Linked DNA regions of Homo sapiens. The main gene of each other region encodes a partner of the protein of the gene in region 2 in a complex. Each region holds a gene or a part of one and is shown on either strand. Other genes may lie near its edges.

The links.
Region 1: KAT6B (region 2) and BRPF3 share a complex: the UniProt entries of both Homo sapiens proteins name them as parts of the MOZ/MORF complex.

What each region holds. Positions count from the first base shown.
Region 1 is NC_000006.12:36,199,744-36,203,496, reverse strand, and holds part of BRPF3 (bromodomain and PHD finger-containing protein 3), read right to left. Parts: intron 3,201-3,753; 5' UTR 3,175-3,200; coding exon 1,727-3,174; intron 1-1,726. UniProt on the Homo sapiens protein: Scaffold subunit of various histone acetyltransferase (HAT) complexes, such as the MOZ/MORF and HBO1 complexes, which have a histone H3 acetyltransferase activity.
Region 2 is NC_000010.11:74,969,600-74,973,352, reverse strand, and holds part of KAT6B (histone acetyltransferase KAT6B), read right to left. Parts: intron 3,694-3,753; coding exon 3,578-3,693; intron 3,334-3,577; coding exon 3,252-3,333; intron 847-3,251; coding exon 714-846; intron 1-713. UniProt on the Homo sapiens protein: Histone acetyltransferase which may be involved in both positive and negative regulation of transcription. Required for RUNX2-dependent transcriptional activation. May be involved in cerebral cortex development.

The DNA.
Region 1 (3,753 bases), on a different chromosome or scaffold from region 2:
CAGATGTAGGCAGCACCCTCCCTCTACCTCTTGGCCATGGAGGATCCCAACAGCATTTGTGCAGGTAGGGAAAAGAACAGCAATAATAAAATAGCAGCAGCAGCAGTAGTCACCATTTATTGAGCACTTACTATTTGCCAGACACTGTGCTAAGTGCTTTACTTATATTATCTCATTTATTTCTCACAACAACTCTATGTGGTGGGTTCATTTACAAATAAACTAAGGCTTAGAGCAGCTAAGCAACTTGCCAAAAGTCACAAAGGTACTAAGTCACAGAATTGGGTTTCAAATGTAGGTTTGTCTGGTTCTTAGCCAGCAAGCTCTGCTGGCCCCAGCAAGAGGCATCTAGAACAACATATATGTCAACCAAAGATTCTAGCCTCAGGGTAAAACCACCCTACAGATGGGAACTAAGCATCCACCCACTTACCTCAGGAAAAAGAATAACCTAGAACAGCTCTGTGACTAGAAAACACATACAGAGTCACTGAAATTCTAACTTGGGTAATAACTGGCAATAAGAGCCTCCCCCTTCTGATCTCACACTTATGTCTTCTTCCCAGCCTGGCAAGTCTGGTTGCCTATTCATAGCTCTCACACAACTCTTTCCCCAGCACTCCTTTCTCTCTACCCTTCTCATCAAGAGAGACGGACTACAGGAATGCAACCTAGAGGCATCATGAGCCCCAGCTCTTGTGGTATAGGGTCTGTCACTTTCCACCTGGTTCCATCCCTTAGAACAGGACATGGCATGTATTAAGTGCTCAATAAATATATCATTGAATGAATAAAGGAGTGAACAACTTTACCTCCCTTGGCCGCAGTTTCTTCATCTGGGGGTGTGGGAGAAGGTGCAAGGACTACATCAGATGAACAGTCTCCAAGACTCCTTCCTGCTCTAACAGTGTATACTGTTTAATGAACACCACCCCTGAGATGAGTCTCTGCTAGGAAATCTTCCCTATCTCTTGCTTCTCTGCCAAGCTCCCATCCCTCCAATGGTTCCAGGTACCTCTCTGATGTTTTAAAACAGGTACCATGGGCTCTCTACAGACTCAATGGCGGGGGCGGAGGGGGGGGGGGTCCACAGAGCTTAGCTACACAGCTGAACTGAATGATCCTCTTATCCCTAAATCTAAAGCTTCAAGAGGAGGAATAGCATGTTCTCTCCACACCACCACCCCCCTCATACCCAGGACAGAACTTGCTGGACAGCAGATGGCCATGCCGATCCTCTGAAACAGTGGTTCTTCACTGGGTAATTAGTTCTACCCTCCCCAAGGGTTTTTGAAAACATGCATGAGGAGGGTTTGAGTTTGTCACAAAGACCAGGCAATGGGGGAGGGGATGCGACTGGCATTTACAAAGACCAGGGATACTAAACATCTAGAAATGTACAGGACACTTCTAATAACGAAGAATTATCCTGTCCAAAATGTCACTTAGTGCCCCTATTGAAAAATACTGTCTTAGATATCCTATCACCTGAGTTTCTAAGTAACTTAAGTGTTTTATTTCACTTTGAACTAAAGGAAATACATTACTCTGAGGGCAAAATCAAAACCACAAACCAGGCCAGGTGAGCCTGGGGTCAAAAGGAAGAGTTTAAATTCGGGGAGGAGGATATAGTGTCCAACTGTGTTTAGCGAAGGCCTGGCACAGGGCCAACACCAACCCAAGAAGAAACCATGAGTCCCTAAGGAGCCCTTCTGGGCATGCTTACCTGTAAGAGGGTATCTGTGGGACAGCAAGCATGGGGAGAGTGGAGGGTGTGTCTTGGCCTGCTTCCTCTGGCTCCTTCTTGATCTTCTGCTTCAAACTCATCTTGCTTTTCTTGGGCACTCCCTTGAGGGAGCCACTCACCCCGCCTTGAGCTTCCTGCTCTTCTTCCTCCACCTCTTCCTCTTCTTCCTCCTCTCCATCACCCTCCTTCAGCCCTTCCTCATCGCCAGTCTCACTGATGCTTCTAGGGGAGTCGCCCTTCCTCCTAGCAGTGGCCGCACCTGGTGGCGAGTGGGCCTCACAGTAGGCAGTCTTGCGCACTGTAAAGATGGTGCCATTGAGGCTGGTTTCGCGCATGGGCTCAATCTTCATGAAGAGCCCAGCCCGCTGTGCACATGTCACATGGAATGCTGTGTAGCAGTTCACCTTATGGCACTGGATGGCTGCACCTAGCCCTTTCTGCTTGCAGATATAGCAGGTTAGTTTCCAGCGGGCAGGCGGGATATTGTCAATGCCCTCAATAGGTTCCAAGAACACGGTGTTAGCAAAGCAGACTTCAGGGATCCAGATGGCACACACCACATGGGCCCAGTGCCCATCACTGGTCTGTTTGAAGGCGCCACCCTTATTGGGGCAAAGGATGCAATCCACAGGCCGGGAGGGAGACTGCAGGCAGCAGCGGCATAGCCACTGGCCCTCAGGGATGTATGGGACGCCATAGCACTCCTGGTGTACAGCCAGGTTGCAGATGTCACAGAAGAGAATAACATTGCTATTGTGACATTCATCATCCAGGCACACACAGCAGAAAGCGTCTTCATCGATGAGTGACTGTTGGGCCCCACTGCTGCGACTCTCCAAGTATGACTCTTTCTCAAGCCGGTCTACCAGCAGCTCAAAGGTATCTGCAGACACCAAACTGTGCCCATCTACTCGCCGTTTTTCATTCACCATGTCCAGCCAGGCAAGGTCCTCCTCATCCATGTCATACTCTACCTCTGCATCCAGGTCTTCAGGTGGCTTCTCAATGTAGCGGTAGTAGGCAGCAGGCAGCGGGGGTGCTTCTGGCTGGATGCCTGAGTCCACCATACGGAAGCTGGGCTGTGGGAGGTGGAAGGAAGTACCAGATGCATGCTTGGAGCAGGATTCCTTCTTTTTGCCCTTGGATGAGGGTTTCTTGGACTTGCCAGGGAACTGAGGCTGTTCACTGTTTTCCTTGTTACTATTGCATTCGGTGATATCCTGGGCAGTTAGCTCATCTTCAGTAATGATTTTGAGTGGGTCATAGATGCTGATACGATGCAGGCGTCCATCAATGTCTACCTCGACAATCCGCTGGGCCTGGGCATATGTCAGGGTCTCCCGGGTGGGTGAGCACTTGAGACTGTAGGGGGACGGGGAACGCCGGCCCTCGGCATTCTGCCGGGACTTCCGACGAGGCTTCCTCATGGCACCTGGGAACTGAGGGGACAGGCCTAAGGAGAGAAGGCCAGGAGACTATGAGTTGGATGCCCTTATGCACCCATTCATCCTCCCATATGATCAAGCATCCACCAAGAGGACTGGCTTTTCCCTCTGTCTGAACAACTTGCCCCTCAGGCATCCACATGGCTTGCTCCTTCACTTCCTTTGAGTCTTTCATTTCTTCAAGTGAACAACACTTCTCAGTGAGACCTTCTCTGACCACTTTATCTAAAATTGCAAATCCTTTTCCTCCACCAGCAATCTACCTTTCATTCTGCTTTATTTTTCCCTTTAACATTCATCATCTTATACCATGCTACATAATTTACCTACTACTATGTTTATTGTTTCCTTCCTTCCACTAGAATATAAGCTCCATGAGGGGAAGAATTTTTGTTTGTCTTGTTCACTGCTGCATCCCCAGTTCCTGGAGCAGTGCTTAGCTCCTAAGTAACCACTCAATAAGTATTAGTTGAATGAAAGAAGAAATCAAACACACATGATCCCTGCCCTCAAGGAGCCCTGTCTAACTCAAAAGACAGAAAAGTAAACAGATTATTACAG
Region 2 (3,753 bases):
ATTCATTTCACCTCTTATCTTTTCTCTGCTTTTCCAACTAACTCCTGCTAAATGCTCTACTGGGCTTTAATGGCAATTATACAGCAACAAGATAGTGAAAATGGGGTTATCATAGTAGATTTCCAGGCCACTGCGAATATATTATTTTATATATATGTCTGCACTAGTGCAGTTGTCAAATAGTTCTGTCTAACTCTTCAGAGGTAAGTGGTCATCTGCAGGTTTTTCAGAAGCTCCTATTTCATAAAAGAGATCTTAAAAAGTGGTAATGCTACATTACTATCAGAAGAGAGAGGTATTTTTCTAAAATGTTATCTGGAGTGACAAAAGAGATTTGCTATAGACATGGACAAATCCCTCTCGTTTTAAAATTCCTATGAAAATATTTACATAATTAAGCTCTAATGCTCAGCCAGTAATAAAGTAGGCTGAATGACTGTTTCCAATTCTTACATTCTGCTTCCATCCTGCTGCTTGAAAAATGTCACTTAGTATCACAGCTACTGCCAACAGAAGACCCCAAAATGCCAATGGTAATTAAAAATGTTATTTTCAAAAAATTTCCACAGCTTATGCAAAAGGAAAAGTATTTTTCAACCCTTGAGTTTGAAAAAATGATGCCAAAAAACCCCTAAAGGAATCTGAGAGAATAACAATCACCTATATTTTAAAGCAAAACATAAATGATTTCTTTTGATAAGATCTCAACCTACAACAATCGTTGCTTTAATTTATTTTTCGGTCGTCCAATGGGTTTTGCATATCGTCGTTTTATTTGTGCAGCTTTCTCATGAAGTAGTTTTCTTCCCTTTTTCTTTGGTCTGCAGACTTGGCAAATCCACATCCCTGAATTAATATATATATGAGAAAAATATTTTAATGTTTCATTTTAAGAGAAGATATTAAATATAAGTTGTAGCTGTAATAAGCTGCTCAAGGATGCCTGTATGCTGAACTTTACTCCAAAAAATGCGTCATTCCCTTTGTCATTTTCCTTAGGAAGCCATCACTAAGGTCAATTTCCCTGGAGTGAAGGTGGTGAGGGCAGAGGTGGCCCCTCTCTCAGAATCCTTCCATGAAGCTGTTCCCAACATGTCATTAAGCCTCTCACCAACACATAAACACACATGAAAACTCGCCCCTGTCAGATATTATATCTTTTGATTTGAGGGAGACATTTTCAAATCAGTCCATTTTTGGAATTTCTAGAAGAAAAAAAAATTGTCTTATCATCTCTTTCTGGAAAGTTCCAACACTAAAAAAAAATTATCAGTATAAAATATAATTTTAAAATTTAAATAAAAGTTTTGAGTACTGCAGAACTACAATGATTCAAACTATACATCTAGCATAGAGAAATAGGTCAATGGATAAGAATGGAAAGACCAGAACAACCAAAGCCTACAGAAAAGTTTAGCATATCAAAAGGTCATATTTTAAATCAGTGGAGAAAGGATGAAATGATTCAATAAGCATGATAGAACAAATAGCTATCTATCTGGAAGAGGAATTATTTCCTATCCTTTACAAGAATAAATTCTAGACAGATGAATATTGTAATATGAAAAAATAAAATGTTATAAGTACCAGGAAAGATATGTGGATATTTATATAATCTAAGCATGACTGACATTTAAAACTGAAGCCATAAATAAAAAGATTCATGAATATGACTACACACAAAAAAAGAGCTTCTGCAAATCAGGAAGAAAAAGGTAAAAATCCCAAGAGAAAAATGATTAATGGATAAAAAGAGGTACTTTAGAAAAGATGATATACAAACAGCCAAGAATAAAACACAAGAAATGTTCAATCTGACTACTTAAAAAGAAATAATCAGACATATTTCTATTATCAAACTGGTAAAATTTTAAAAATAATAATACTCTAATCAAATCTAAGATACTGTATGATGCATCTGACTTCAAAAATATTAAAACATTAAAAAAATGTGTCTTAGACTCAAGGAGATATAGTAACGGTGAGTACTGGTCACAATACAGGAAAATAGGTATCCTTCTATACTGCTGGACAGCCTGAAAACTGATACAGCCTTTCATGTATCTAGCCTTTGATCCAACAGTTCCTCCTCTAGGAATTTATTTCAAGGAAATAATTGTGGATGGAAAAAATTGGAAACATTTGTAATATCCACCCTAAGGGACTGGTTAAATAAATTAGAGTTCATTTATATAGAGGGTTGGAAAATCAAATACCTCCAGGAAGGACCTAGATTGTATAATGTATGTGACTGAAGCAAATTGGAACGTAAGACAGCAGGGAGTAGTGAGATTGTGGCAAACTGGAGCACACACGCACCACCCAGAGGACTCAGATTCAAACTTGTAAAAATATTGTACCAACAAAGCATATCTGTGACCCATAGTTGCCAGGTTTGTAATCCCTGCTCTATACTATGGAGTTCTACATACTTATTAAAAACTATGTTTAGGAGAATATTTAATGATGTAGGGGATGCTTATAATCTATTAAGAGGGAGGAAAAAGTACATTACAAAAACATGTACAGAATGTTCCATTTCCCTTCAAAGGGTATGTGAAGGCAGAGAAGGAAATTTCCAATTCATTTTTATTTTTATTCCTTTTTTGTCTATCTGTACTTTTTAAATCTTCCACAATGTAAATTATGGATTTTATAATAAAAAGGCAAAGTTATTTTTAAATGTTTAATATATTGCAAAATGAGGGGAAAAGGCTGAGCTTAGCTGATTTACACAATAAACAGAAGAAAATCCACATTCCATCAGACACAATCAGCTATAAGATCATTCAGATGCTCGTGTTCAAAATATCAACTAATGGCCAAGAAAATGGTGATGGCTTCCTGTTGTAGGACTTTGGAGTCACTATCATCCTCAAAAATATAAAATTTGTTAAGCTCTTAACACTGTGCTGAATAATATGGAAAGTGTTCTAAACTTTTGACCTTAATAATCTAATCTTATTCTAATAGGGGAATGGTTTGGAGAGAGAGATGGTCTTTTCATCCCTGGGTCTGAATTAGAGCCTTTATTTTATATATATGTATATATATACACATATATATATGTATTTTTTTCTATGCTTTTATACTCCTCTATTCACAACCTGTGCTAAACTCAGAAGTATAGGGAAGGTGGGAGGGATGAAAAAAATGCTTAAAGAACCTGTATACCTCTGAGCTGTCAGACCTCAGGACAAAGCTAACCAATATGTAATAAAATACATTTTTAGTACAGTTTAGAAGTTCACCTTTTGGCATTCTGGAAAGTGGTGGGTCACAGCATTCCATATGAAATCCTCTATCACAGGAATCACAAAAAAGCATATTATCCTGTAATATAACATATTAGAGACTAATTGAGACTGAAACCAACTGTAAAAGGCCAAAAATTCTTTTGTTACTGGATTAACATTAATACAATATAAGGAAAGTGCACCAAGATCCTGGTTGCAGTTTGACATCATGTGTATTTAAAGCTTTAGAAAGAAAGTAGCCATACTCTATAAAAATGAAAACACCTTAACACTGGAAATTAGCGAGTTACCTGGAGGCGGATTACGGGAGCCATACTTACAGCATTTCTGCCTTGGACTCTACAGGCACTGCATGTCTTGCATTCGATGCACTGCCACCTTAAGGCCTTTACATTTGTTGTTAATTCAGGACAAAATTTCAAACAGGATGGGTGTCCTATGAGAATAAAAAGCAAATTGCTTGATGGGAATGGTGCCTTTGACTTTTTTAAACTCC